Regions from separate parts of the Homo sapiens genome. Here regions 1, 2, 4 and 5 are each linked to region 3. The links come from fine-mapping of genetic effects on gene expression. A gene starts in region 3. Each other region holds a variant in brackets. All regions are shown on one strand. Distances are between the middles of the regions.

Region 1 (6,290 bases), 33 kb after region 3:
TGAATGAAACAAAATCTTTGCCATCATTCAACTTACATTTCAGTTGGGGAGATAAAGTTTTAAAAAGTAAATAGACATGTAAAATGATAAATTGTGAGAAATGCTCTGAAAGAAGCAGGCAAGGGACTGGGGCAGAGCATGGCGGGAGGCAAGGAAAGGAGAACTTGCCTTAGATTGGGTGCTCCTGGGGGACCTGACTGAGGGGAAATTTAAGCCTAGTGCTAAAGGATGAGAAATAGCTGGGTGTGGGAAGAGTGTGGGAAGGTTCCAGGAAGAGGGAAGAGCATATGCAAAGGCCCTGAGGCAAGAAAGAGCTCAGCATGTTCCAAGCATGGAAAGAGGGCCAGTGCGGTTGGAGTACAGTGAACAAGACTGGAGATAAGTTGCAGAGATGGGCAGTGATCAGGTTGTACAGTGGACTTTTTCAGCAGGGTTAGTCTAGATTTTTGTCATATGAGAGACAGGAAGTGTTTTTTGAAGGATTTTAAAGCAGAGGCATGACCTGATCAGATTTACATCATCATTATTATTATTATTATTATTATTTTTTTTTTTGAGATGGAGTCTCACTCTGTCACTAGGCTGGAGTGCAGTGGTGCGATCTTGGCTCACTGCAACCTCGGCCTCCCGGGTTCAAGAGATTCTCCTGCCTCAGCTTCCCTAGTAGTTGGGACTACAGGCGTGTGCCACCACGCCCAGCTAATTTTTGTATTTTTAGTAGAGATGGGGTTTCACCATGTTGGCCAGGATGGTCTTGATCTCTTGACGTGATCCACCCACCTTGGCCTCCTAAAGAGCTAGGATTACAGGCGTGAGCCACTGCGCCTGGCCAGATTTACATTTTAACAAGATCCCCTTGGCAACTGTGGGATGGTTGTATTGAAGGTATCTAATGGTGACAGTAAACAGGACTGTTGCAACAGTCTTCATGAAAGGGGTTGGAGACATGACTGATGTGTGGCAATGGAGACGGAGAGACCTGCACAGAAACCTGCAGCTTGTAGCTCTGTTTGGACCTGGGATCAACAGCACCTGCTAATGGACTGGATGTGGAGGCTGAGGGAAAGGGAAGATCAAAGTTGTCTCCTACGTCAGCCACTTGAGCAGCTAGATGGATGATGGAGCATTTATACTGCCTGGGGAGAAACTGAGGGAGTTGGGAAAGGGCATGGACTTGCACCTTACACGTGTTAAATGTGAGATACTTGTGGGCATCCAAGTGGAGAATCTGGCATTCAGAGGAGAGTTATGGGCTGGAGATGTGGATTTTGGAGTTACCAGTGTATAACTATGGTACCCAAACCCATGGCAACAGATGAGGTGACTTCTAGGAAAAGAGTGTAGAGAGGAAAGAGAAGAGGGCCTAGGTCTGAGCCTTGAGGGACCCCAACATTTGGAACTGGATGAGGCAGAGTACTCTCTGCCCCTTTTTCCTCTGACCATCCCCCATTCCATCTTGGCTGGCCCTAGGAGAGACTGCAAAGGGAAGCAATATTTATTTTAGTGCTTAATGTTGGGTTAGAAGCTATCCTAGAGATAACCTGTGATCCCAGCTACTTGGGAGGCTGAGAGGATCACTGGAGGCCAGGAGTTGGAGACCAGCCTAGGCAACATAGTGATAGCTCATCTCTAAAAAATAAAAAAATTAGCTGGACATGGTGGCACATACCTGTAGTCCCAGCTACCCCAGAGGCTGAAGTGGGAGGATTGCTTGAGCCGAGGGGTTTGAGGCTTCAGTGGGCTATGATTGCACCACTGCACTCCAGCCTGGGGGACAGAAGGAAACCCCATCTCTAGAGTTTCCAGTGCCTTACACACATATGTAATACATAAGTTCGGGGGGCAGGGAATTTATTCATGAAAGTGTGTTACTCCTCTTAGGAATATTTATAGCTTTAACGATTTACCTGAAGAGTGGAATCTTTGCTACTAGGTTGGTTGCCTGATAGATTTTGGACAAGGATGTTATTCCTCGAGCTGGATAGGCAGCAAAGCACTAGTAAGCCCTGTTGGTAGAACTGGGAATAAAGGGACTGTCCCCTGTCTCCCAGGAGATGGGGCAGTGCCTAGGGTTAGCTCTCTGAAGACGAATTACCTGAGAGGCTCTTGCCCCTACCCTACTCTCCCAGGTCTGTGATGATGAGTGGCACCACTACGCTCTGAACCTCGAGTTCCCCACAGTCACACTCTATACCGACGGCATCTCCTTCGACCCTGCCCTCATCCATGACAATGGCCTCATCCACCCACCCCGAAGGGAGCCTGCTCTCATGATTGGGGCCTGCTGGACTGGTAAGCTTCTCAGTGAAGACTCCAGTGGTTCAGGATTTGGGAAGGGAGGTAGGCTGGTGAGGAGCAAGGGCAGTCTGACCCAGCAGCTGAGGCCGCCTCCTGCATCTCTCTGCAGCTGTGCAGGGTGACTCTGAAGATCTCCATGGGAAGGGACCACAGCCTCCCTCCCGTATCTCCCACTAATCCAATGGGTCATCACCTCTGACTTGGAGGAATTAACTTCTCACGCATCCCCAGACTCTCTCTCTGTAACTCCAGCCAGTTTCCACTTTTTTCCATCAAAGTGATGATGACTTCCATAGCCCATTCCCCTGCTCAAGGAGAGTAACCCCTTAGAGTGTCCTCGGTCTTCCAACTTTTAAGCCATTGAAAAAATTTTTCTCCTCTTGGGAGTGTGTGTGTGCACATGTGCCTGTCTGTCTTACCAGAGCCCACGTGTTTCCTCAGCAGCATATCGTATTTGGGGGTTTGTCTATAATAGAGGCTGGAGAGGTTGGAACATGACAAAAGAAGGGTTGGGGCTGAGCTGAGAGGTTGCAAGTTATACATGGGCAGGGTCAGAATCCCATGTGGGCATGAGAGCACTCATGGGGATGAGAGGAAGACATCTCATTCCTCTCTGTCAATCTCTCCACATCCCTGAGCTCACCAGCACTGTTTTTTTTTTTTTTTTATCCCCAGAGGAGAAGAACAAAGAGAAGGAAAAGGGAGACAACAGTACAGACACCACCCAAGGTACTCCGTGTGTAAGAACTGGAGACCAGAGAGTTCTCATCTTCACTTTCTGTTCTGAGATCCCTTTTCCACCCCAAATCCTATCCAGCCTGTGACA[G/A]CCTCCTAGGCCACCAGGGGGCAGAGCCTCCAAGAAATACAGCAGGGCAGGGGCTCCTGGAGTGGTAAGGCTAGAGGCAGCTTGGCTGGGTTCTGGGTATCCTGTCCTGCCCACAGAATGAAGAATGGGGCTCTCTTGGTGGCTTTCCACATGGTAGAAGGGAGGTGGCAGGAGTCAGGAGTCAGACACGCAGAAGGGGAAGGTCTGGGCATCTGTGAAGCTCGCTCACATCCATCCTGGTCTCCCTGCATGTCACTGGAAAGACGTTCTCTCCTGCCGCCTCCCCCTCCCTCCTTGTTTTGACTCTTTCCTCCTGTTGGTCCTGTTTCCTTCTCTTCCTCCCTCTCATCTTTGTTGCTTCTACTTTTCACCCTTCTTCTTCTCCCCTGGCTTTATTCTGTCTTCTTTTGTCTCATTTTCTCCCTTCTCTAGCCTCCCCCCTTACCTTCACTTCTCCCTCACCTCTCATCTCTCTTTTTTCCTTTTTTTTTTTTTTTTTGGTTTCCACATTTCTCCTTTTTTTCTTTCTCAACTCTTCTGCTCTTTCTCTCCTTTCCCTTTCTCTCAGCCTTCGTCCTTTTCCATCCTCCTCTCTTCTCACCTCCCGTCCTGCTCCTGTGTTCCTACCCTAGGAGACCCTTTGTCGATCCACCACTACTTCCATGGCTACCTGGCTGGTTTCAGCGTGCGCTCAGGTCGCCTGGAGAGCCGCGAGGTCATCGAGTGCCTCTATGCATGTCGGGAGGGGCTGGACTATAGGGATTTCGAGAGCCTGGGCAAAGGCATGAAGGTATTGCCCCATCCTCTAGCCCTGTTCTTCCCAGCATGCCCCTTGCCCCACCCCCTTGCCCTACCCCTCTACCTCTGCTCCCTTCCTCTGCCACCTCCTGGCCCTGCTCTCAGCTGTATCTGTGTCTGGGGCCCAGGTCCACGTGAACCCCTCACAGTCCCTGCTCACCCTGGAGGGGGATGATGTGGAGACCTTCAACCATGCCCTGCAGCATGTGGCTTACATGAACACTCTGCGCTTTGCCACGCCCGGCGTCAGGCCCCTGCGCCTCACCACTGCTGTCAAGTGAGTGTTGGGTGGGGCAGGGCAAATCACCAAGCAGAGCCAGACAGTGTCACAGCTCCTTGGCCTAAGGCGTCACCTAGAGCTAGGCATACCTCTTTTGTTTTATGGATGAGGAGATTGGGCCCTCAAATGGAGACAATTGACCACTGAAGGTCACATAGCAATATTGGTAGAAGAGTCTGGACTATACTCAGATTTCTCAACAATCAATCTGTTACTCTTTCTACCAAGTCACACATCTAGGGTTTCCGGGCTTTGATCTTCTCTATGCCTCTGTGCTGATACGTAAAGTGGGACACAGGATTGGGAGTGGGGAGACCTGACATTAATTCTGACTCAATGCGAATTGCTTGGATAACCTCGGGCAAATGGTGAGTCCTGGCTGCTTCACTTGTTTTAATCTTGCTTCACCAAGCTCTTGCAAGGTCACGTACGATGGCCTAAGTCTGGGGGTTGGCAGTCCTAGGCCAAATCTGGCCTGCCCACCTGTTTTGTAGTTTTATTGGAACACAGCAGTGCCCATTCATTGCATATGTCTATGGCTACTTTCACTGTGATGGCAGAACTGTGGGTAGTTGGGACAAAGATCATATGGCCCCCTCAAACAGAACTATCTAATCCTTCATAGAAAAAGTTTGCTGGCCGGGCACGGTGGCTCACGCCTGTAATCCCAGCACTTTGGGAGGCCAAGGCAGATGGATCACGAGGAGTTCAAGACCAGCCTGGCCAACATGGTGAAACCCTGTCTCTACTAAAAATACAAAAATTAGCTGGGCATGGTGGCACGTGCCTGTAATCCCAGTTACTTGGGAGGCTGAGACAGGAGAATTGCTTGAACTGGGACCCAGGAGGCGGAGGTTTCAGTGAGCCGAGATTGCACCACTGCACTCCAGCCTGGGCTACAAAGCGAGACTCCATCTCAAAAAAAAAAAAAAAAAAAAAAAGTTTACTGACCTCTGAATTCTAAGTGAATGACTTTTGGAGTCTTTAAAAGAAAAATTGTAGATTATTTCAAGGTTTGAGTATATATTACATGTTTAAAAATACAGATCAATTGAGAGGCAACGAAAGTATGATAGTTAAGAGCATAGGGTCTATTGCTAGCTTTTTGGCACTGGGCAAATGCTATAAAGTGGTGATAGCAATAGAGTCTAACTCGTGGAATTGTTACGATGACTACATGATATAATCTGGATCAAATGCCTAGCAGAGAGTGGATGCCGCTTAAATGCTGGCTATTATTACATAAAGGCATTTTCACCCCTTATTATGGTTTATGGGCGGTTTTTAGGAGATACTGCCATCTAGTGGGTGAATTACATGATTTAAGAGTTAGGATTTCTGCGTTCCAATCTTGTTACCCCTCTCCCCGATTCTGCCTCAGTTTCTCTGTGAGCTATATGAAGATAAACATCTCAAATTTGCCCCTATCCTGGGAGGGGTGGGTTTAGAGGGGAGAGGGCTCTGAGCCCTAGAGGGTGACTGGGCGTGATTATCAGGCCTCACAGTTAGAGCTGTGGAAGGCCCCGGGCTGTGGCTTTTGGGAATTTGCTGGTTCAGGGTGTGGAGCTGAAGGTCACAGGCAGTTGAGTTAATGTGGGTGCAGCTGATTGCTGAGTATGCACCCCGCCATGTCCCAGTCAGAGCTCCAGTTGTTAAAGGGCTGTCATCCAGTTATGAAAGGCTTGATCCCTCAGAAGCCAAGGCATTGCCTCGTCCCCTCCAGTGCTGAGGAGCCATGGCAGAAGGGAGGGCTCTGGTTTTTGGCCTAGGGTGGAGCTCTGCAAGGGGAGTTCCTGCGGGGGGAGGAGTTGACATTCTCTTTGCTGACTGCCTCATCTGAATTCCTGCTATCTTTTTCATGCCCAGGATAGAGGTTTATCCAAGGGCTTGGAACCTGCCTTTGAGGAAAGGGGCCTTGATGTTTTCTCTATGAGGTTAAGAAACAGAGTTTTCATTTCTCCATTTCTAAGGTTACTACATGGTTGGTGCTATCCTAATACTTCCCTGAGGTCACGGGAGAAAATATAGAGGGGTGTGTGTGTGTGTGTGTGTGTGTGCGCGCGCATTTGTGTGTATGTAACAGACACA
Region 2 (6,290 bases), 150 kb after region 3:
TCCACCCAAGACTAAACCAGGAAGAAGTTGAATATCTGAATAGACCAATAACAGGATCTGAAATTGTGGCAATAATCGACAGCTTACCAACCAAAAAGAGTCCAGGACCAGATGGATTCACAGCCGAATTCTACCGGAGGTACAAGGAGGAACTGGTACCATTCCTTCTGAAACTATTCCAATCAATAGAAAAAGAGGAAATCCTCCCTAACGCATTTTATGAGGCCAGCATCATCCTGATACCAAAGCCTGGCAGAGACACAACCAAAAAAGAGAATTTTAGACCAATATCCTTGATGAACATTGATGCAAAAATCCTCAATAAAATACTGGCAAAACGAATCCAGCAGCACATCAAAAAGCTTATCCACCACGATCAAGTGGGCTTCATCCCTGGGATGCAAGGCTGGTTCAATATACGCAAATCAATAAATGTAATCCAGCATATAAACAGAACCAAAGACAAAAACCACATGATTATCTCAATAGATGCAGAAAAGGCCTTTGACAAAATTCAACAACCCTTCATGCTAAAAACTCTCAATAAATTCGGTATTGATGGGACGTATCTCAAAATAATAAGAGCTATCTATGACAAACCCACAGCCAATATCATACTGAATGGGCAAAAACTGGAAGCATTCCCTTTGAAAACTGGCAGAAGACAGGGATGCCCTCTCTCACCACTCCTATTCAACGTAGTGTTGGAAGTTCTGGCCAGGGCAATTAGGCAGGAGAAGGAAATAAAGGGTATTCAATTAGGAAAAGAGGAAGTCAAATTGTTCCTGTTTGCAGACGACATGATTATATATCTAGAAAACCCCACTGTCTCAGCCCAAAATCTCCTTAAGCTGATAAGCAACTTCAGCAAAGTCTCAGGATACAAAATCAATGTATAAAAATCACAAGCATTCTTATACACCAATAACAGACAAACAGAGAGCCAAATCATGAGTGAACTCCCATTCACAATTGCTTCAAAGAGAATAAAATACCTAGGAATCCAACTTACAAGGGATGTGAAGGACCTCTTCAGGGAGAACTACAAACCACTGCTCAGTGTAATAAAAGAGGATACAAACAAATGGAAGAACATTCCATGCTCATGGGTAGGAAGAATCAATATTGTGAAAATGGCCATACTGCCCAAGGTAATTTATAGATTCAATGCCATCCTCCTCAAGCTACCAATGACTTTCTTCACAGAATTGGAAAAAAATACTTTAAAGTTCATATGGAACCAAAAAAGAGCCCACATCGCCAAGTCAATCCTAAGCCAAAAGAACAAAGCTGGAGGCATCACGCTACCTGACTTCAAACTATACTACAAGGCTACGGTAACCAAAACAGCATGGTACTGGTACCAAAACAGAGATATACATCAATGGAATAGAACAGAGCCCTCAGAAATAACGCTGCATATCTACAACCATCTGATCTTTGACAAACCTGAGAAAAACAAGCAATGGGGAAAGGATTCCCTATTTAATAAATGGTGCTGGAAAAACTGGCTAGCCATATGTAGAAAGCTGAAACTGGATCCCTTCCTTACACCTTATACAAAAATTAATTCAAGATGGATTAAAGACTTAAACGTTAGACCTAAACCCATAAAAACTCTAAAAGAAAACCTAGGCATTACCATTCAGGACATAGGTATGGGCAAGGACTTCATGTCTAAAACACCAAAAGCAATGGCAACTAAAGACAAAATTGACAAATGGGATCTAATTAAATTAAACAGCTTCTGCACAGCAAAAGAAACTACCATCAGAGTGAACATGCAACCTACAAAATGGGAGAAAATTTTCGCAACCTACTCATCTGACAAAGGGCCAATATCCAGAATCTAGAATGAACTCAAACAAATTTACAAGAAAAAAAAAACCCATCAAAAAGTGGGCAAAGGATATGAACAGACACTTCTCAAAAGAGGATATTTATGCAGCCAAAAGACACATGAAAAAATGCTCATCATCACTGGCCATCAGAGAATGCAAATCAAAACCACAATGAGATACCATCTCACACCAGTTAGAATGGCAATCATTAAAAAGTCAGGAAGCAACAGGTGCTGGAGAGAATGTGGAGAAATAGGAACACTTTTACACTGTTGGTGGGACTGTAAACTAGTTCAGCCATTGTGGAAGTCAGTGTGGCGATTCCTCAGGGATCTAGAACTAGAAATACCATTTGACCCAGCCATCCCATTACTGGGTATATTCCCAAAGGACTATAAATCATGCTGCTATAAAGACACATGCACACGTAAGTTTATTGCGGCACTATTCACAATAGCAAAGACTTGCAACCAACCCAAATGTCCAACAACGATAGACTGGATTAAGAAAATGTGGCACATATACACCATGGAATACTATGCAGCCATAAAAAATGATAAGTTCATGTCCTTTGTAGGGACATGGATGAAATTGGAAATCATCATTCTCCGTAAACTATAGCAAGAACAAAAAACCAAACACCGCATATTCTCACTTATAGGTGGGAATTGAACAATGAGATCACATGGACACAGGATGGGGAATATCACACTCTGGGGACTGTGGTGGGGTTGGGGGAACGGGGAGGGATAGCATTGGGAGATATACCTAATGCTAGATGACGAGTTAGTGGGTGCAGCGCACCAGCATGGCACATGTATACGTATGTAACTAACCTGCACCATGTGCACATGTACCCTGAAACTTAAAGTATAATTAAAAAAAAGAAAGAAAAAGGAATATAATCAAGGCAATGGTTAAAAAAAAACCATAGAATCTTTAAAATTCCGAGTCTACCATGATGCTCAGGGTGGGTTGGGGGATGAAAGGGTGGAGGGAGAAAAATTCCTTTTTGAGGAAAACTCTGGTTAGTAAAAGTAGAAAGAATAACAGAATTTGGAAATCAACATTTTGCAATCTCCAATGATTGATTTAGATAAGGATCATAACTGGATGCTATGTCCTCTAGGTGAAAGTTACACTTGCAAAGTGTGGCTGACACCATCTGAACCAAGTGAACAAATTTAACATCATCAATAGTGGGACAATCTGACATCATGTGCCTAGTAAGATGATGCAGTGCGTTATACATGGATTATTTATGAAATGTCCTGCTAGAAGTGTTTATCCTGAATCTAATCGGGCTCCAGCTTAATTTAAAG[T/C]CTGTGAAAGTTTTAAAATATATTACCCATTTCCCTCCAGGAAGATGACCTCAATTTATACTCTCAGCAGCGTAGTAGACTGCCAGTTTCCCTGAACAAGTTAATTGAGACCACAAGGACACAAAAATACACAGGCAGTATGTGAGATATTCATCAAGACAACAACTGATCTGGATTCTTCTCAAGACAATGTCATGGGTAAAAAAAGCAAGAGAATTCTTCTACATTACAGGAGACGTGCTTGAATCCTGGACTTTTAAAAAAGCTATAAAAGACATTTTGGGACCATTGAGGAATTTTTAGTGTGGAATGGTTATAAATGATATTTAGGAATTATGAATGTCTTCGATGGTCATAATATTCTCCTATTATGGCTATATGGGAGAATGTCCTCATGTTTTAAAGATGAATGCTGAAGAATTTAAAAAAGAAAATAATGTCTGCAACTTACTTTCAAATGATTTAGAAAAATCATGTAAATAGGGCAACAAGTGAAAATACCCCAAATTCTTCTGACTCTGAAGGTCCACAAAACATACTTGAAAAACCACTGGGCTAGGCAATGAACAATCTGGATTCCCCAAATGAGTACTTATGATGGTGACTGGGTGGAGGTCCTGGAAACCTGAAATCTATCCATTTGTGTATGTCTCTCCCAGTGCCTCAACACCTGCAGTTCCTTAAGGCAGCTTCATGAATGAACTTGTTCCCACTGGTTCTTTTTCTGACATGTGAAAGCTTTTATAATCTCAGATCCTGTCTCTTTATCTCATAATAAAGAAAGCTCCCCTCAGCATCTATGTCAACACAGACAAAGGGTTCAATCTGCCAAAATGCCTCAGCAAAGTCTGGCTCTTGACTACAACTGGGGTGTGGGATGAGGTGGCTTTTTCCTCTGATTTCACAACCTCTAAAGGAAATGGATTTTTATTGTTTCTTTTTCTTCTGTAAGCTAAAGGAACTAGGGCTCTAGAGTGGCTTCTACCACTAAGTTCCATCCTTCAACACCAACTGACTCAAGAAAAAACAGTGCAATAAGAGACCACAAACAACTTCCTGAAACACGAAAATAAAATGCATATATTTTCACCTGAATATTTAGAACAATAGGACTTAGCATTAGAAGACTGGGTTCAAATCCTGATTCTGCTTTTAACAAGTAGTGGACGGGTTATGGACAACTAATATCCTAAGCCTCAGTTATTTCACCTGAAAATTGGGGTGCTAATGATAATAAATGCTATGGAAATAAGATGAATAATAGCCATGGAAATAAGATGAGTTAATGGCTATGAACGTGCTTTGTAATATGAAAATGCTATAAAATGATCCTAGCTAGTCTAGTTAACTGAATTAATAAATGAATAATCTGAAGGCCAACAAGGACATGACTTGATTGACATTACAAAGCAAATTTATTTATCTGTTCAATACATTCTCTCCTGGGTTAGGACTTACACTAAAATATGGAGGTTAACTAGACTGTCCTCTTACTACATGTAGATGTATTTGTAGAGATCCATATAGATACATAAGAAATACAGCTGTCTCGCCAAATTTACTGAGTCATCCCAGCACCATACTAAGAGTTTGGGTATATTACTTCACTGAAGCTTATGACTGTCCTATGAGAAAAGTCCTATTATTATCCCCATCATATGAATAAGAACAGTGAGGATACAAAAGGAGAGATTATAAATGCCTGAAAAATATCAGTGAGAATGTAGGAGAAGAAATGGACTTTAGATTGAGCAGGTTGAATACACAGAACATAGAAAACCAATGGGATATAAGGATTAAGGAAAAAAGAGATGACAAGAAACCATGTTGCTATAATTGAGCAAATATTAATGCTATACAGAGGGAAGAACAGGTTGGTGGGGAAAATTTCCATTCATTTAACCAATATTAACTGAGCACTTAATATGTGTCTGACAATATTATAAGCTCTAGGGATATAGCAATAAAAAATATTGGTAAGAGTTCCTATTTTCCTGAACTTATATTCTGGGAACAGGGGAATATGTTCAAGAATTGTTATGTTCTTGATTTTTTGAGGCGCTCATTGAACATTTGGGTGAAGATGTCCAGGAAATACCAGGAAATAGTTGGAGAAATGGGTTTAATTCTCAAAAGAGTTGTTTAAATGAGAGATGAACTTGGGAAATCTTCAGTGTATAAATGGTGATTGAATTTATGAACATGAATGAGGTCACTCAGGCACAGAATATAGTTCCAGAAGAACAGCAGGCTAAAGGTGAAGCCCTTGCAATGCCAATATTTAAGAAGAAGAGTCCAAGAAAGAGATGAAGCAGGAACAGTTAGACAGGTAAAAGGAATGGCAGAAGAGAATGATATGATAAAAACCAAGGAAAGAGAAAGTTATAAGAAGGAATGGTTAGTAGTTTCAAATGCTGTTAAGAGATCAATATGTATAATGAACAACTGAATGTGGCACCCAGAGGGTCCCTATGATTATGGCAAAGGCAGCTTCAGGAGAGAAGTTGGGGCAGGAGGCCAATGTAGTATGTGGAGGGGTGTCTAGAAGAAAAGTCTGTAAAAGCCTCAATTAAAGTGAACTTTTCTGTTGAGAACTTAACCTGCCAGCATGGGCAACATAGCGATACATCATCTTTACAAAAAATAAAAAATTAGCCAGGCATGGTGACACGCACCTGTGTTCCAGCTACTCTGGAGGCCAAGGCAGTAGGATTGTTTGAGCTCCGGAGTTTAATGCTAAAGTGAGCTGTGATCGGGCTACTGCACTCCAGCCTAGGTGACAGAGAAAGACCCTATCTCAAACAAACAAACAAACAAAAACAACAACAACAACAAAAAACTTTATCTGGAGAGAAATATTAATATAAGCAACAGGAGACCAAGAGTGAGGTATTGGCTTTTAAAATAGAGGAACAATGTCAGCGTGTTTGACTGCTTGTGAGAAAGGGTCAGTAACAGAGAAGCTGGAAGAGAAAAGAGAAGGAAAAATGGGTGAGGCCACTGTAGAGACAAAGAGGAGGGATCCAGAACACCCTCCTCCTGACCCTGGACGCAGGGAAGGTGGGATGTAGAAGAGAAAAAATGAGTGAAAGGGAAAGACTCCAAGTTGAGGAAGTTGTTGCTGATG
Region 3 (6,175 bases):
AAGGAAAATATTCCAAAAGTTCTAGAGAGAGAAAACAAAGGATTAGGAATGATAAGGGCATCAAACTTCTTAACAAAGTCTAGACCTAGAAGACAATATCATCAAAATTCTGGAAGAAAAAGGTTTCCAATCTAGAATGCTATACCCAGATCAACTATCCCTCCACTGTGAGGGTAGAACTGAGACATTTAGACATATATAAGATCTTCTAAAATTCACTCTAAAATACCCTTTCTAAGGAAGCCACTGGTGAAGGTGCTCCTCCAAAATGGGAGAGTAAACCAAAAAAGAGAAAGGTATGGGATTCAGGTTCAGCACAGGTAAAGGAAATCCCCAGAAAGAGGGAGAAGAGAACTCCCAGAATGTGTGACGGCTTAGAGAGCAAAGAACTCAGGCTGTGAAAATAAATCGAGAGATCTTCAGGAGGGATGTCACCAATTAAAAGGAGGACCGATAGACTGAAATTCATGCTTGAGTATTTCAGAAGAAGATTTACACTCCTGGTTAAGAGTCTGGTGAGATTAGTTACAGAGACAACTAAGCAAACTAAAAAGCAAAACAAAAACAAACACCCCCCACCAAAAAACAAAACAAAACAAAACAAAAAAACTCCATGTAACTATTGACTCCTAGGAAACCCAAAAGTTGGAGAAGAAAAGAAATATAATTATTTTATGCTATGTGCTCAGATGTGAATATTTTACAGTCATAATAATGTAAATAATGAATAAAGATTTAACTAAAAATGATAATATAGGTAAACTGGCAGAATGAGGAGGGGAAATGTGGGTGGTGAAGACTGAAGACAGATAAAGCTAGTCCTTATCTTCTATACTGTAGTTGAGCATTAATAGAAAATACGTAAAAATGAAAGACAAATAAGCATGTTATTTATACATATGAAGTTAAAGACCAGATGAAACAGCTACATGAATTGGCAAATGACTGCTCCTGAGGAGCAGCACTCAGGGGCGGGGAGGAACAGCTTGGAGACTGCTGTTATTCATAAACCTTTTTAAAAACCTTTTTTTTTTTTTGGAGACAGGGTCTCACTCTGTCACCCAGGCTGGAGTACGGTGTCATGATCAGAGCTCACTGCAGCCTCTACCTTCCAGGCTCAAGTGATCCTCTCACTTCAGCGTCCCTTGTAGCTGGGACCACAGGTGCGTGCCACCACACTTGGCTAATTTTTAAATTTTTTTGTAGAGATGGGGTCTTGCTATGTTGCCCAGGCTGGTCTCAAATTCCTGGGCTCAAGTGCTTCTTTCGCCTCAGCCTCCCAAAGTGCTGGGACTACAGACATGAGCTACTGCGCCCAGCCTTAGAAAACTTTAATTAAAAAACAAAAAGTCTTACAACTATTATGTATCCATAATAATTAAAAATTTTAAAATTAAAAAATAAAGTTCAAAAATTTATGTCATTTTGATATAAATAAAATTTAAATCAAAAGATAATGTGCTCTTTTTATTTTTATTTATTATTTACTTATTTTTGAGATGGGGTCTTGCTATGTTGCTTAGGCTGGCCTTGAACCCTGGGCTCCAGCCCTCTGATCCTCCAGCCTCAGTCTCCTGACTATACTGCTGGGACTGCAAGCTTGCATCACTCCATCAAGTACTGTTTTTAAAATGTCCTTATTCTGAATAAGGCTTTGGCGTTAGAAGTTTTGTAATAGCTCTTCCAAGGTAAGTGTGAACGGTGACTTAATCTTTTGTTATTATTTGTGTCCAGCTTCCTCACCTGATAGAGCAGGCACTCAACAAATACATGATGACATATTTTTAACAACCAATATGTGCGTCCCTGCCCCTGGCTCCATAGATTTGCAAGATTTGTGTGTCCATTCATAAGCCTTCCAAACGCAGGGCCTGCTTGCTGCCCTCTTTGCTCTGTGGGGCCCAGATGGCAGCCCCGGAGGCGCTGGTGGGAGGCTGTGTCCTGGGGTCCACCACTGCTCCCCGGTAAGCCAAGCCCGACTGCCCCTACATGGAAAATTCATCCCTCCTCCAGATGGGGGATTCAGGGCACCGCCACTTCCCACAACCCCGGGAATCTCCCTGGCCACAGTCCTGGCGGGACCCCCCCCATCCCCAGCTCACTGTGACAGAGTCCCCTGCACAGTCCTGGGACGGCTCCAGGTCGAAGTCCTGGAAGACGAGCCTCACAGCAAAGCCCTCTGGAGCCTTGATGTCCGTGCTGCTCTCTTGGCCTTTGCCATACGGCTCTGGGTACCCGGGGGATGTCAGCTGCTGGGGTAGCTCTTGGGCCAAGAGGACGGAGCCCCGGGTTGGGCAAGCCTGGAGGACTCCCCAGAGAAGCAGCCACCACCTGTGAGTTGGGGGGAGGGCAAGGTGGGGCCGCGCAGCTATGGCCGGAAGCCTGTGGGTGTGGGAGGAGCGGGGGAGCCGCGCTAGGACTCAGAGGCCTCGCGAGGCAGGGCTAGAAGCTGTGGCCTCACCCTTGAGGCCCGGGCACTTCCCGTCTCCTCCCTTGCTCCCCTTCCTCACCCCAATCCCTACAGCCTCCCGCGCAGCCTGAGCTCTAGGATTGTGGGTTTTCCATCCTCCGAAGACATCACCTTTGCTCATCTCCCAGGAGAGTCTCGTCCAAAGGAGGGGGGTGCTTTCTGCTTCAGCAGATCCCACCCCACCCTGGGATCCGAGGGAGCAATGGTGGGGCGAGTGAGGGTCTGCCGTAAATATCCCCCGACCACCCTCTGGGAAGGTGCTAGAGGCCACAGGCAAATTTCAGTCTCCCCATGGAATATCTGCTGTGCTGCTGCTGCTGCTGCTGCTGGTGTGTGTATGTGGGGGAGGTGTGTGTGTGTGTGTGTGTGTGGGGGGGGGGGGGATGTGTGTGTGGGGGGGGTAGGGTGGGGGGAGGGAGGGTTTGCGGCCACCCACCCTTTCTCTTCCCCTCCCGTCCTCTTCCCTCCTCCTCTGCCGGGGCCACACTCACATTGCGCCTGGACAGCCTTTGGAGTGAGGGCTTCTCCAGAGATATTTCCCCCACACTCTGGGTCCAGGCATCTGGAACTGGACATCTGGGACCTGCGAGAGAACTGGCCCAGGATAGGGAACAAAAGGTGAAGGCCGGTGGGGGAGGAGGAAGTTCCTGGAAATGTTAAGCAACTCCACAGTTCCCCTTCTCCAATTCTCCGGGCTGAGCGCCACCTGCCGTCTGACTCAGGAACAGCGGGCCCGCCGCAGCTTAGGGGAGAAACGTCCAAAAACCTCGCTGGCCCTCAGAGGTCAGGGTGGCAGGGCACTGACTCGACCCTTTTGTACTATTTAACATTAATTTTTGCCATGTGTGTAGGATGGCTCCTTGTGAGTTATGGCTGCTGCCTTCAATCAGCCATGTCTCTTCCTCCCCGACCTTTCCGTTCACGACATACCCGGGGAGCCTCCCTCTTGTAGAATTGAAGTTTGTGATCCTTGAACTTGAGCTTTCTCTTCCTTTCCCTCCTCCCCAAGCAGGGGTGGGGGACATGCGCTTAGGTGGTCTTTTGAATCCTATTCACAACCTCTGGAGGCTGCTTGTCCAGCATGGTCAGGGCTGGGGTCGAGCCCAGGTGTCCCTCAGTCCCTAGTCCCAGTCATCACTCAAGCCGTCACTCAAGCTTCTTTAGGCAGATACTAGAGCCCCTGCCTGCTCTCACCGCTCCCCGAGGAAGGACACTCACCCACAGCTTGGTAGGAGGCCAGAAGGCTCTTATGGAGATGGGTGGTCCCATCCTCAGAGAAGGCAGGTGTGTGGAAGGCCTTACGTTGTATGCACACACAAATGCATGTGCGCGCGCACACACACCTCTCAGAGAAGAATCTATTGCTTCCCCCATTTTGCATATAGTAATATGGAGGCAAGTTACAGACCCAAACAGGGTGTGCTCTGCATCTTTGGTTTTTCTAGGCTAGAGAGATTTAGGAGAGCCACAGTCTATGGCTACAAGGAGATGATAAGAGAGTGATGGCCAGGACAGATGCAATGTCTCAGGTACAGTCTTGAGATCAAGCCTACCTGTCTGCCACACCCCAACCCCAAACACAACTGGGGATGATCTCCCATACCCATCTTCGAGGAGTGGGCCTCTCTGACTAGGACTTCTTTCCTCCCCTGAGACCACTGAAACCTGCTCTCTCATAGAACTCTTAGGGTCACCTGGAGCACCTTGGGAGCCAGAGATGCAGCCAAAGAGTGAACAATGGTACCAATCCCAAGACCCATGTGTTAAGAAGAAACCAGCCAAGACTCAGATCAGGATTGGGGAGTCCACCCCTCGTTTCCCTTCAGAGCATTATTTCCTTGTTTGCTAAGAGGGGCAGGAACTGGAAAACTCAGGCTAGCCCATCTGAGAAGACTTTCCTGGAGATGAGCTGGAGGAGGGAGGAGTAAGGCCTTGGAAGGAAACTCCAGGACAGGTAGGGTGACCGACTGTTCTGATTTGCGTGGGACCGACGGGTTTCCCAGGACATGAGGCTTTCCGTTTTAAAATGAGGGAAGTTCTGGGCAAGCCAGGACTGGTGGTCACCCTAAATGGATAGGGGTTAAAGTGCTGGAGTGAGGCTGGGTGAGAAAGAGGACAGGGAGCCAAGAGGGTGGGGAGGCAGTGATGCACCGGCAGCCCCAGGTGACTGGGCAGTCCAGGGTCTGGATGTGGTCCCTGTTTGGGGTAATCCAGCACTCTGAAGATGAGGGCCCACCTTGGTCTCACCTAGGTGGCGTGTGCGGCTGCAGCATGAGTTAGGGTCAAGGGCAAGGGGAGGAATGGCTGGTGATGTGAGACTGGAGAAGGAGCTGATGGCTCTGTGCATAGCTGGTCACTGCAGGCCCCTGTGGGCTAGGGCTGAGCTGTGCCCCGCTGTGTTTTCAGCACCACCTCCCCTACACTGGGACCTCGTCTCTAACTGGCAGAGTGGTCAATGAAAAAAAGGGCATGCCTTGGCACATCATGGTCAAACTGCTAAAAGCCAAAGACAAGAGAAAATCTTTTCTTTTTTTTAATCCCATCCTAAAGACTAGACAGAACAATATTTTCAATGTCACTCTTTTCTCATCAAAACCAATATAGACCAGAAGACAGTGGAATATCTCTAAAATGCTGAAGGAAAAAAAAAGTCAACTCAGAATTGTTTTTCTAGTGAAAGTATTCTTCCAGAATGAAGATGAAATAAAGCTATTTTCAGATAAAAGAAAACAGAGATTCTTGTCGCCAGCAGACCTCCACTATGAGAAGCGCTAAAGAAAGTTCTTTAGGACGGGCACGATAGCTCACGCCTATAATCCCAGCATTTTGGGAGGCCAAGGTGGGAGGATTGCTTGAGCTCGGAAGATGGAGGCTGCAGTGAGCCATGACGGTGCCACTGCACTCCAGCTTGGGTGACAGAGTGAGACGCTGTCTCAAATTGGAAGAGCAGAGCTGCAGACAGGAATAAGAAGAACGGTAAATTTGAAGGTAAATATAAAATACGATTTTCTTTTTAATGTCTTTAAAATATGTAGAACTGTTCCAGGCAAAAATTATAACATTGTATTGTGAGGTTTATAACATATGTAGCTGTAACATATATGAAGACTGTAGTATAAAGCAGGGGTCCCCAACCCCTGAGCCGTGGACCAGTATTGGAGGTGAGTGGTGGTGAGCAAGCAAAGCTTCATCTGTATTTGTAGCTGCTTCCCATCACTCACATTACCATCTGAACTTCGTCTTCTGTCAGCAGCAGCAGCAGCAGCAGCATTAGATTCTCATAGGGGCACGAACCCTATTGTGAACTATGCATGGAGGGATCTAGGCTGTGTGCTCCTTATGAGAATCTAATGCCTGGTGACCTGTCACTGTCTCCTATCACCCCTAGATGGGACCGTCTAGTTGCAAGAAAACAAGCTCAGGGCTCCCACTGATTCTACATTACGGTGAGTTGTATAATTATTAATATTTCATTATATATTACAATAACAATAATAATAGAAAGAAAACATGCAATGAATGTAATGTGTTTGAACTATCCTGAAACCATCTCCCTCTGGCCCCATCCCTGGTTTGTGGAAAAACCGTTTTCCATGAAGCCAGTCCCTTGTGCCAAAAAGGGTGGGGACTGCTGGTATAGAGGACAAGGGGGTGGACTCATGGTTACAAGTTTCCTTCATTTCACATGAAGTGGTACAATAGGAA
Region 4 (5,760 bases), 26 kb after region 3:
GGACGGGATTTGTCATGTTTCTAGGCCAGCCCGATAATCCCTTAGGATGACGGCTCTGCTGGGTCCAGTTGCTCAGCATTGATTCCTCTGCTCCATTCCTGCCCCTCTCTGCCCCCTCCCTCTGTCCTATATATCTTCACTTCTCTCCTTTCTCCCCATCCTGTGTTCTGGGAGAGTGGCCTCAAGTTGGGGCTTGGCTGGGAGAAGTGCAGAGTGAAGGGATCAGGACTGAAATGAGTTGGGAGGAGGATAAGCAATCAGGATCTCAGGAAACTTCTAGATCTTTTTCTAGTTTCAATTCTGCCCTTAATCTATCCCTTCCCTTTCCCAGGGCCTTCTCACAGCCCACCACTGCTCCCTGAAGTTCCCTGTCTCCATTCTCTAGCACGTGAAATCGCTAAAGAACATTCTCCACTTCCTGACCATGGTTCCCATGGAGATAGTGATCCCCTCCTCTTCACCCCCAGGGCAGGTTGTTTCCATGGGAACTGTCTACCCTGCTATAGGAGAAGGCTATGACCTCCCGCAGACCCTCTGACTCCTTTAGTAGCTGATTTCTTGTCCTCAACCACCCGCCTCCTGTAAGGTGCTCCTATAGGGGGTGGAAAAGGTGATGGTGCTGGGGTGTGAGTTGTCTGGGTCAACAAGGGTTGTTGTGGGAGTAGAGGCCCTGCTCACAGGTGCTTCCTCTCCTCTCCCTGGGGTGGGGCCAGCCAACAAGCACAAGCCATGGATTGAGGCAGAGTACCAGGGCATCGTCATGGAGAATGACAACACGGTCCTACTGAATCCACCACTCTTTGCCTTGGACAAGGATGCCCCGCTGCGCTATGCAGGTAATTGGGATTGGGGGATGGCAAGGCAGGGTAGGACAGAGAAAAGTGGGTGGGAGGGCCAAGAGCAAGGGAGGGAGGGAAGGTCCTGGGAGTGATGAGAAAGTAAGGGAAGATAAAAGTGGGCTCAAGGAGGGGAATGGTCTCCACTGAAGAATGGAGATTGAGTCAAGGATGCCAGAAAAGGACATGGCCAGGCAAGGGTTAAACACATCATGATTTTGTCAGATCTCAGGTCTGGAGGCTCTGGGAGGTTGCTGCTCAGGGAAGCTGGGCTTAGAGTTGCGTGTTTGATCATTAATGCTTTTGTGCCTACAGGAGAAGGGACAGGGCTTTGGGAGGAGAGGTGGAGCTGGACCCCAGGTGGGGAGACTGAGGGTGGGGAAGGAGACACAGCAGCCTCACTCCTCCCCTTCTCCCCTTTGCCAGGTGAGATCTGCGGCTTCCGGCTCCATGGGTCTGGGGTGCCCTTTGAGGCTGTGATCCTTGACAAGGCGACAGGAGAGGGGCTGATCCGGGCCAAGGAGCCTGTGGACTGCGAGGCCCAGAAGGAACACACCTTCACCATCCAGGCCTATGACTGTGGCGAGGGCCCCGACGGGGCCAACACCAAGAAGTCCCACAAGTGAGGAAGTCCTTGTCTCCTGCCCCATGTGTTGCAGGGTCCTCCTCCCTGCTCCCAAGCCCACCATCCTCTGTCCGTGCGGTCATCGAATATCCACCCCCACCCGCTGCTGTTCCTAGGACTTAGGGAGCCCCATCCCCTGCTGTTCCTAGGATTTAGGGACTTTCAGGCAAGGTGACAGAAACGTATAGTAGAGTTCAGTGGATCTAATCTTGGCTTTGCCTCTCATGACCTTGGGCAGCCTAGCCTTTCTGGACTTGCTTTTCCTTATCTGTAGAATGGAGATTGTGATGACACCTACTTCATAAGGCTGCTGTGAAGATTCAAGGAGATGGTTTGTGTTGAAAGCATGCACCACAGTGCCTGATACACGTTGAAGGGCACAGTACATGGGCATAATGATGAGGAGGAGAGCAAGAAGGAAGAGGATGAACACACTCAGCATGCATCCAGTTCCCTTTCAACTGCCCCCTCCAGTCTATTTGCAGTGTATACCACACACACGATCCCTATCATACACATATAGCTCTAGGTGAGGGTGGGCAGGCGATGGTTGTAGCAAGAAAGAGGCTCGGGTCTGGGACACCTACGCTTGTTGCCAGCTAACTTCTTATTTGAGAATAAGAGAAAGATCTTCAGTCAGGATTCCTGAGCCACTAAGAGGCACTAGAGATAAAATGCTCTTTGTGACTCAGTTTCCCATTTGAAGATAGGACCCTTGCCTCTGGGGCCTGGGAGCCTGGGTCTTGGCCTGGGGCAGGGCTCAGCATGAAGGGCCTCGACCCAGCTCTGCTTGCCCCGGTGCATGACTAGGGAGGGGCCGCATGTGCGGGAGGCAGCACTGCCCACACGTACTGTGCAGACATGTCAGATGACTTGTGACCTTTGTACACATGCCATTTCCCTTCTTATGGCTGGTTTTAATTTGGCTTTTACTCTGCATCTTCCTTGCTTATCCCCCCGGATCTGACTGTTGTGAAGGAAGGCCCTGCTGGATTTTATGCCTTACCCCTCCTCTTGGCACCCTGACCCATAGCATTTTGCACAGAAGTCATCAAAATCAGCTCCTGAGCACCCCTGGGCCTTGTTCCTCATCCCCTACATCAGTCCTCCTTTCTTTGGGCCCTCCCTCTGGTGTTGTCCTCTCCCTGGCATGACTTTGATGCAGCTTGGTGCCCTGTGGGGTGGGGAGGAGCGTGCTGACTGCCTCAGTCTCAGGGATAGATGGGCAGGCTCCCTCCTGTTCTGGCTCTCCGTCGGGATTCCTGCTTGCTCCTTTCTGGCATATGGGTGTACCGTGTCGAGGCTGTACCTTGGTGTACAGTATAAGGCTGTATCTCGTTGTGCCCATATTGAGGCTGTTTGTTGGTGTACAGTATTGAGGCTGTATCTTGGTGTACGGTATCGAACCTGTCCCTCCATGTGCCGTATCAAGGCTGTATCTTGATGTACCGTATCGAGGCTGTACCTCGGTGTGCTGTATCAAGGCTGTATCTCAATGTATAATGTCGAGGCTGGCTG[A/C]CGTGTCTTCATCCCTCCTTCTCTCTGGCATATGCAGGGCCACTGTGCATGTGCGGGTCAACGATGTGAACGAGTTTGCCCCAGTGTTTGTGGAACGGCTGTATCGTGCGGCTGTGACAGAGGGGAAGCTGTACGATCGCATCCTGCGGGTGGAAGCCATTGACGGTGACTGCTCCCCCCAGTACAGCCAGATCTGCTACTATGAGATTCTCACACCCAACACCCCTTTCCTCATTGACAATGACGGTGAGTCCACCCCTGGCTTCCCTGGCCACCCAGTTCCCCTTGAGCACCCACCTCCCTCAGGACAACCCAGGGTTGCATTCTCCACTTTTGCCCCTCAGACCCTCACCTCACCCTTCTTCCCAAATGGAGCCTTCTCCTCCCAGATGCCTTTTTTCCCAGCGTCCTGCTGCCTAACCTGCCTGCTGCCCGATGATCTCAGACATCCTCCCCTCCCTGCCCTGGGCTTTCTCCAATGCTCTAATGCTCTGTCCTCCTGACCCCACCCCAGGGAACATTGAGAACACAGAGAAGCTGCAGTACAGTGGTGAGAGGCTCTATAAGTTTACAGTGACAGCTTATGACTGTGGGAAGAAGCGGGCAGCAGATGATGCTGAGGTGGAGATTCAGGTGAAGCCCACCTGTAAACCCAGCTGGCAAGGTGAGAGCTCAGCGCTGTGCCCCATCTTGTGAATCATCTTTTTTCTTGGTCTCTCTTTCTGTCCTTTCTGACAATCATGGGGGCCAGGCTAGGGCTTGGATGATATTGGGGCAGGCTTGCAGCTATCTACTCTAGCCGGGCCATCCTGCCAGGAGCCCCAAACTGTCCATGGACATGGCAAGAGGAGCATGGAGAGGGGAGGCTGCTTTACCCTTCTCTCTCCCCATCACCCTCTCTGTCTCACCCATGCAGGCTGGAACAAAAGGATCGAATATGCACCAGGTGCTGGGAGCTTGGCTTTGTTCCCTGGTATCCGCCTGGAGACCTGTGATGAACCACTCTGGAACATTCAGGCCACCATAGAGCTGCAGACCAGCCATGTGGCCAAGGGCTGTGACCGTGACAACTACTCAGAGCGGGCGCTGCGGAAACTCTGTGGTAGGTGTGCCCCCAACACTGCCTCAGGCCTATCCCTTCCCATCCAACCTCTGTCCAAACTTTTCCAAGACTCTGCTTTACATCACCACTGGCCATCCACAGGTGTTTATCCATAGAGGTTGTGACACGATTAGCATTTGCGGCCCAAAAGGCAGGTACATATGTCTTTGGCAAAGATGCATAGTCATCGCACCAGACAGTCACCGGATGCATGGTGGAACAATGGTAGGGCGAGATGAAGAGTTGGAGAATGGGTTAACTGGAGAGATACTCTTAGAAGTGAGTTCATCCCTCTCTTGTCTTTGAAAGGCCATAAAAGGTGGCAAGACGTGCTGTAGGAAATCTTTTCCCATCAGTCCCTCTTTCCCTGCCTCCTGCCCTTTTCACCATCTGCTGCTTCTTGGCTCTGACACTTGTGCCTCCTGGGGCTCCCACAGGTGCTGCCACTGGGGAGGTGGATCTGTTGCCCATGCCTGGCCCCAATGCCAACTGGACAGCAGGACTCTCGGTGCACTACAGCCAGGACAGCAGCCTGATCTACTGGTTCAATGGCACCCAGGCTGTGCAGGTGCCCCTGGGTGGCCCCAGTGGGCTGGGCTCTGGGCCCCAGGACAGCCTCAGTGACCACTTCACCCTGTCCTTCTGGATGAAGCATGGCGTAACTCCCAACAAGGGCAAGAAGGAAGAGGAAACCATCGTATGTAACACTGTCCAGAATGGTGAGCCTCCCCTCCAGGCACTAGCCAGAGGGGGAAACTGGCTTCTTGTCCCGCCTCTGTCACTGCCCAGTGTGTGACTGTGAACAGGTCACTTCCCCTCTCTTCATTTGTGAGGTGCAAGTGCCAGGTGTGATATGCCTTGATTCTGTGCTTTATCCCCAACATGACATGTTGGATCGTACTGCTGTCAGAGTGCAATGGGATTCCTTGCTGCTACTCTTGTTTTCAGTTGCCCAGTCAACTTCTCTGTGTCCCACCATGTGGTAGGCTGTCCCCACCCCCCATCTCCACCTCCATTAAAGCCCCTCCATTGCAATGGGAAAGCCTGGGTAATGGTGTGCCCCATTCTTTCATCATCCCATCCTGGGACTGGTTGGCCCCAACTCCGAGGCCTGTTCTTCCCTCAACTGCAGGGCCTACTTCACTGGAGAGGGCTTAGTCTTGACCTGCTCTTTCATTTCTAGCCAATTCTCCAACCTCATTTCTCTTGACCTTGACAACTCTTTTGAAAAGGGTTGTCACCCATGATGTATGTATTAACCAAAGGACTGATGAAGAGCTGGTGATGGAGTGGGCCAGCTGATGTTCCCTCCTCAGCCAGCCAGCCAGGGTGCCTAAGAAGCCCAAGTTATCACTTGGACTGGAATGTGTGTGTGTGTGTGTGTGTGTGTGTGTGTGTGTGTGTGAGAGAGAGAGAGAGAGAGAGAGAGAGGAAAGAAAAATGCTAGAGAACGAGGGAATGAGAGAGGATTAAGAGAATCCAACATCCTCTCCTTCCTGCTGCTTTGAACTTGTTCTGGCCTCAGCCTCTGCACTTGACCCCATCCCCTTCCTGTGCCCTCAGAGGACGGCTTCTCTCACTACTCGCTGACTGTCCACGGCTGTAGGATTGCCTTCCTCTACTGGCCCCTGCTTGAGAGTGCCCGCCCAGTCAAGTTCCTCTGGAAGCTGGAGCAGGTG
Region 5 (6,290 bases), 100 kb after region 3:
TTGTGTTTTTTTCCTTTTCATCCAGCTCCCTGTTTCTTGAAGTGAAAGAGCTCTTCCTGGCAGCTGTGCGGCTGGACCCTACCTCCATTGACCCTGATGTGCAGTGTGGCTTGGGAGTCCTTTTCAACCTGAGTGGGGAGTATGACAAGGCCGTGGACTGCTTCACAGCTGCCCTCAGCGTTCGTCCCAATGTGAGCCCAGGGGAGGAATGGAAATGGGACATGACTGTGTACCTTATTGAAGAGCCATTTGTTGGGAAGCTGGGTTTGATGGTGCATGCCTGTAGTCCCAGCTACTTGGGAGGCTGAAGTGGGAGGATCACTTGAGCCTGGGAGTTCAAATCCAGCCTGGGCAACATAGCAAGACCCTGCCCACCCCCACAAAAAAGAATAATTTGTTCAGACTTTTGGAGTCTTGGGGTATTTCATTCCAGTGTTCCATGTACTGACTGCCTTGGGAGGACTGGGAAAAGAAGGCTGGGAGTGTAGGGTCATCTGGACATAAGAGAGTCTGCATAGGGTGAGAGGGGCTACATTGTAGCCACACACCGAACTGTTGAGAATGGAATGGGACGAAACATGTTAGCTAACAGAGTAGTGAAACAGCTGGAGTAATGTGCAGAGTTTGAGCTGAGTCGGTGGAGTAATGTGCAGAGTTTGAGCTGAGTCAAGCTGTTCCCATCCGTTCTGCATCCCTATCCCAGGACTATTTGCTGTGGAATAAGCTAGGCGCCACCCTGGCCAATGGAAACCAGAGTGAAGAAGCAGTAGCTGCGTACCGCCGGGCCCTCGAGCTCCAGCCTGGCTATATCCGGTCCCGCTATAACCTGGGCATCAGCTGCATCAACCTCGGGGCTCACCGGTGAGAGTATCTATTGAGAAATGAATGAATGAGCTTTTTCTCCCTGCCTTTGGCCCTAGCTCCTTATTCTTAGATCCTGTTTGACTAACCAGCCCTAGCTTTCTCCCTCCCACTGCTAGCTGACCTGCTTCCTTCCATTGTTGTTCAGCTTAACAGCTCTCATTCCTCTTCTTCCTTACAGGGAGGCTGTGGAGCACTTTCTGGAGGCCCTGAACATGCAGAGGAAAAGCCGGGGCCCCCGGGGTGAAGGAGGTGCCATGTCGGAGAACATCTGGAGCACCCTGCGTTTGGCATTGTCTATGTTAGGCCAGAGCGATGCCTATGGGGCAGCCGACGCGCGGGATCTGTCCACCCTCCTAACTATGTTTGGCCTGCCCCAGTGACAGTGGGACGGGCTGCCCTGTGAGTGTCCACCTGGAGGGATCCCCGCTTTGGATGTGATTCCCTCTCCCCAAATGGGCCTACCAAGGGGGCGGGCTGATGACCATAAGCGGTACGGCCTTTCAGGAGCTGCCTCAACGTAGGGGTGGGTAGTCTGTGTTCTAGTTCCTACATAATTGTAGGAAAATGAGCTGTGTCATCTCTGAGTCCCTTGGTAATTCAAGGGCTGTACATCCAGCTACAGATCTCTCTGCTCATCATGCCCTTTCTTGGTGCTGCTTTTTGGGTAGGACCCCACGATTTAGGGTAACTGTTATCATCAGCTGCCATTTCTGATAGGGTCTACCACATCTGTAATGTCTGTCCTTTCCCCCACTTTTACTGGGAATTGATAGTCCAGCTTCCTTGGGCAGTGTAAGTAGGAGGTTCATCTGCTGTGCGCCTCTAATGTCTGTCTGGATGGGATGTGTTAGGAGTTGGCCTGTTGGGTTGAATTGTTGATTTGGCTGAGCAGAGCTGAGTTTTGGTAGGAGTGCTCATGGTTCTGTCATTCTTGGACCTCTCCTGGCTGAGCTCTGATTCCCTGTGAGCACGATGCTGATGCAATAGTCCTGTGTCATCACTGCAGCGGTCCTCAGGAGCTGCCAGGGCCAATTGCTACAGAGTGTCTGGGTGTGTGGCATAGGAGGAAGGTTTGCTTGTGAAATGAGGCTGGGTGGGAGCGGGGAGGGACTAGATCAGAAGAGATCAAGGGCTCTATTCAGGAACGTTGGTGGGAGGACAGAGCAAGTGGGAAGGGGGTATGGTGAGTGCGGCAATCCCTCATCCTCTTAGAAGCACCTGTGAATGGGAATTGAGCCAACTGTTATAGAAAATTGGTTCAGAAAGTGCAATCTTGCCAGATTTCTAGCAAATAGGTTCAGTGTTACCATAAGCCTTTGCTGTACTTCTTGAAATGTTTCTAGGGGAGAGCATTGGAAAATCCCCTTCCCCCATCTAGATCGAAGGAAGATGAGGGAGCAGCTTGGATTCTTCTCAGTTGTCCCCTGCATGGGGAGATACACTAACCCCCAGAAATGACTGCTAAGCCTCTTGCCTTGTCTTTAGTAGCTAATGATCAGAGAGATTTTTTTTTTAAACTACCATGGTCCCAGGATTCCATCCTGAAATTTATTTTTCTTTGTATGAATATGTGTAAATGATTTAAAAATAAAACTGTAAAATATTTGTACGAAGAATAAATGGAACTGATGTGGGTATGAGTTCTGCTGGTCATGAAGCTGGGATGGCAGAAGGTGAGTTGGCGTTTGGAGGACTGGGATTCAACAGTTTCTGCCTTTCAAATTCTCACTGGTATATTGGTTACCTGCTCATCCCTCTAAAAATGATAGAGCACAGGAGACAGGGTCCCTGTTCTCTGGGCCTCTGGGCTAGCAGGAGAAAGAGATGTCGATAATCATGAATTTTTACTCCTGTTACTACTACAAAGGAAAGTGTGCAGTGCCATATAATTGTTAGGTTGTTTTGTATTATGAATTACATGGAAGGATTTTGATAGTTTTTCAGTGCTTAGGGTTTCTAAAGCTTTTCATCTGGCTCTGCCTGCCTTTATCGGGAACTGTATCAAGTGCCATATCAAGATGGGTATTTATCCTGAGGAAAAATTTAAAAATATACACAAATATTTATACTTGGAGATAGATGTTTGTGGGCACATTAGACTTGGAAAAAAAATTTTTTTTTTTTTGTTTTTTTTTTTTTAAGGCAGTGTTTCACTCTTTTTGCCCAGGCTGGAGTGCAATGGCGTGATCTCAGCTCACTGCAGCCTCCGCCTCCTGGGTTCAAGCGATTCTCCTGCCTCAGCTTCCTAAGTAGATGGGATTACAGGCATGTGCCACCACGCCCAGCTAATTTTGTATTTTTATTAGAGACAGGGTTTCATCATGTTGGTCAGGCTGGTCTCGAACGCCCGACCTCAGGCAATCCACCCACCTCGGCCTCCCAAAGTGCTGGGATTACAGACGTGAGCCACCGTGCCCAGCCAAAAAAAAGTCTAACTTTTAAATTTATTTAAAAAGTTTTTCAAATAGAGACTAGATCTCACTATGTTGACCAGGCTGGTCTTGAACTCCTGGCCTCAAGGAATCCTGCCTCAGCCTCCCAAAGTTCTGGGATCACAGGGAGGAGCACCATACCTGGCCAAAGTCTAATTTTTTTTTTCCGGTGAGCTCAAAAGCTGCCA[GAAAAAA/G]AAAAAAAAAAAAAAAAAACCCAAAAAACAAAAAAAACAGGTCTAAAAGACAACTGGGTAAGTAAATTGTCCAGACAGTGAAATATAGCTATTGCTATTTAATCATTTATGGAATAATTTCCAGTGACAATAGATGCTAACAATATAGTGAGAAAAATGGTTGGTCAATTATTTACAGATTGTCTTAAGAAAAAAATGCATTGAAAAGACAATAGGGAACTATCCCAATGTGCTAAAAGTGGGGAGATCATACTTCTCTGTAATTCTCAAATTTTCTTGGTGCATGTTTGATACTTTTCTAGAGGAGAAAATTAAACACCTGGGGGAGGAAAACAGGAAGCTGTTGTGGCACCTGTCACCACCTGGGGGATCACGAGGCAGCTGGTGTCTTGGGCTCTGCAGGTTGGTGGTGCAAAGACCCAGGCGGGAAGTGGGCTGGGCAGGTGGAGGAGCAGTTTCCACACTACATAGGTGCAGGACATGACAAAGTCTGGCTGTGTAAATGACTTAAGAATTAAGCTATAAAATACCTAGGAATCCAACTTACAAGGGATGTGAAGGACCTCTTCAAGGAGAACTACAAACCAGTGCTCAAGGAAATAAAAGAGGATACAAACAAATGGAAGAACATTCCATGCTCATGGGTAGGAAGAATCAATATTGTGAAAATGGCCATACTGCCCAAGGTAATTTACAGATTCAATGCCATCCCCATCAAGCTACCAATGACTTTCTTCACAGAATTGGAAAAAACTACTTTAAAGTTCATATGGAACCAAAAAAGAGCCCACATCACCAAGTCAATCCTAAGCCAAAAGAACAAAGCTGGAGGCATCACACTACCTGACTTCTTCAAACTATACTACAAGGCTACAGTAACCAAAACAGCATGGTACTGGTACCAAAACAGAGATATAGATCAATGGAACAGAACAGAGCCCTCAGAAATAACACCGCATATCTACAACTATCTGATCTTTGACAAACCTGACAAAAGCAATGGGGAAAGGATTCCCTATTTAATAAATGGTGCAGGGAAAACTGGCTAGCCATATGTAGAAAGCTGAAACTGGATCCCTTCCTTACACCTTATACAAAAATCAATTCAAGATGGATTAAAGACTTACATGTTAGACCTAAAACCATAAAAACCCTAGAAGAAAACCTAGGCATTACCATTCAGGACATAGGCATGGGCAAGGACTTCATGTCTAAAACACCAAAAGCAATGGCAACAAAAGACAAAATTGACAAATGGGATCTAATTAAACTAAAGAGCTTCTGCACAGCAAAAGAAACTACCAACAGAGTGAACAGGCAACCTACAAAATGGGAGAAAATTTTCGCAACCTACTCATCTGACAAAGGGCTAATATCCAGAATCTACAATGAACTCAAACAAATTTACAAGAAAAAAACAACCCCATCAAAAAGTGGGCGAAGGACATGAACAGACACTTTTCAAAAGAAGACATTTATGCAGCCAAAAAACACATGAAAAAATGCTCACCATCACTGGCCATCAGAGAAATGCAAATCAAAACCACAATGAGATACCATCTCACACCAGTTAGAATGGCAGTCATTAAAAAGTCAGGAAACAACAGGTGCTGGACAGGATGTGGAGAAATAGGAACACTTTTACACTGTTGGTGGGACTGTAAACTAGTTCAACCATTGTGGAAGTCAGTGTGGTGATTCCTCAGGGATCTAGAACTAGAAATACCATTTGACCCAGCCATCCCATTACTGGGTATATTCCCAAAGGACTACAAATCATGCTGCTATAAAGACGCACACGTATGTTTATTGCGGCACTATTCACAATAGCAAAGACTTGGAACCAACCCAAATGTCCAACAACGATAGACTGGATTAAGAAAATGTGGCACATATACACCATGGAATACTATGCAGCCGTAAAAAATGATGAGTTCATGTCCTTTGTAGGGACATGGATGAAATTGGAAATCATTCTCAGTAAACTATCACAAGAACAAAAAACCAAACACTGCATGTTCTCACTCATAGGTGGGAATTGAACAATAAGAACACATGGACACAGGAAGGGGAACATCACACTCTGGGGACTGTTGTGGGGTGGGGGGAGGGGGGAGGGATAGCATTAGGAGATATACCTAATGCTAAATGACGAGTTAATGGGTGCAGCACACCAGCATGGCACATGTATACATATGTAACTAACCTGCACATTGTGCACATGTACCCTAAAACTTAAAGTATAATAATAATAAAATAAAAAAAGAATTATTCTCTTAAAAAATTGTGAATGTTACATTATTCATGTTTTTACATTAAAAACATGAATAGATGTTGAAACTAATTTCTTTGGAAATCTTCGGATATAGACTATTACCTATTAATATAATACTGATAATGATATCAGTATTATATTAGTCAAAAGTTCTAAATTCATCTTGGGATTTTAGAAATTATATTGAAGCTAGCATCAATGAGCAATACAATTATTGTTGATAACCCAAATTTATCAGAGACGTGGCATCTTAAAATTTTACTCAGATTATGCATTTGGGTGACTTTGTAGTCCGCAAAATTTGCAGTCACTAAGGCTAAGGTTAAGAAAACTATTTTATAAATGGACAAAGGACATGAACAGACACTTTTCAAAATAAGACATTCATTTGGTCAACAAATAAATGAAAAAATGCTCAACATTACTAATGAAATGCAAATCAAAACCACAATGAGATACCATCTCACACCAGTCAGAATGACTATTATTAAAAAGTCAAAAAAGTAACATGTTAGTGAGGTTGCA

Evidence for each region.
Region 1: its variant is fine-mapped to the expression of C1RL-AS1 in whole blood (INTERVAL, PIP 0.98).
Region 2: its variant is fine-mapped to the expression of C1RL-AS1 in whole blood (INTERVAL, PIP above 0.99).
Region 4: its variant is fine-mapped to the expression of C1RL-AS1 in whole blood (TOPMed, PIP above 0.99).
Region 5: its variant is fine-mapped to the expression of C1RL-AS1 in whole blood (INTERVAL, PIP above 0.99).

What each region holds. Positions count from the first base shown.
Region 1 is chr12:7,139,113-7,145,402 of GRCh38, forward strand. It overlaps CLSTN3 (calsyntenin 3), which reads left to right. Exons shown (of 18, transcript NM_014718.4): 9 at 2,130-2,292; 10 at 2,974-3,027; 11 at 3,757-3,914; 12 at 4,051-4,199. Among named protein-coding and RNA genes, the nearest start is that of CLSTN3, 12 kb to the left of the region's middle. The variant G/A (reference allele first, on the strand shown) is at 3,125.
Region 2 is chr12:7,254,533-7,260,822 of GRCh38, forward strand. No RefSeq gene overlaps it. Among named protein-coding and RNA genes, the nearest start is that of ACSM4, 46 kb to the right of the region's middle. RefSeq lists a silencer at 4,578-4,778. The variant T/C (reference allele first, on the strand shown) is at 3,164.
Region 3 is chr12:7,106,149-7,112,323 of GRCh38, forward strand. C1RL-AS1 (C1RL antisense RNA 1) reads left to right here and starts at 2,160. Exons shown (of 12, transcript NR_026947.1): 1 at 2,160-2,333; 2 at 2,525-2,799; 3 at 3,916-3,999; 4 at 4,150-4,424; 5 at 4,877-5,458; 6 at 5,859-5,916. It overlaps C1RL (complement C1r subcomponent like), which reads right to left and starts at 3,066. Exons shown (of 6, transcript NM_016546.4): 1 at 2,962-3,066; 2 at 2,103-2,331. The coding sequence starts at 3,032. RefSeq lists enhancers at 2,086-3,285, 2,118-2,287, 2,928-3,007.
Region 4 is chr12:7,132,311-7,138,070 of GRCh38, forward strand. CLSTN3 (calsyntenin 3) reads left to right here. Exons shown (of 18, transcript NM_014718.4): 2 at 714-836; 3 at 1,263-1,458; 4 at 3,017-3,225; 5 at 3,494-3,643; 6 at 3,896-4,081; 7 at 4,519-4,800; 8 at 5,645-5,757. Among named protein-coding and RNA genes, the nearest start is that of CLSTN3, 4.8 kb to the left of the region's middle. The variant A/C (reference allele first, on the strand shown) is at 2,980.
Region 5 is chr12:7,208,980-7,215,269 of GRCh38, forward strand. PEX5 (peroxisomal biogenesis factor 5) reads left to right here. Exons shown (of 16, transcript NM_001351132.2): 14 at 26-191; 15 at 704-861; 16 at 1,043-2,480. The coding sequence ends at 1,244. Among named protein-coding and RNA genes, the nearest start is that of PEX5, 22 kb to the left of the region's middle. The variant GAAAAAA/G (reference allele first, on the strand shown) is at 3,485.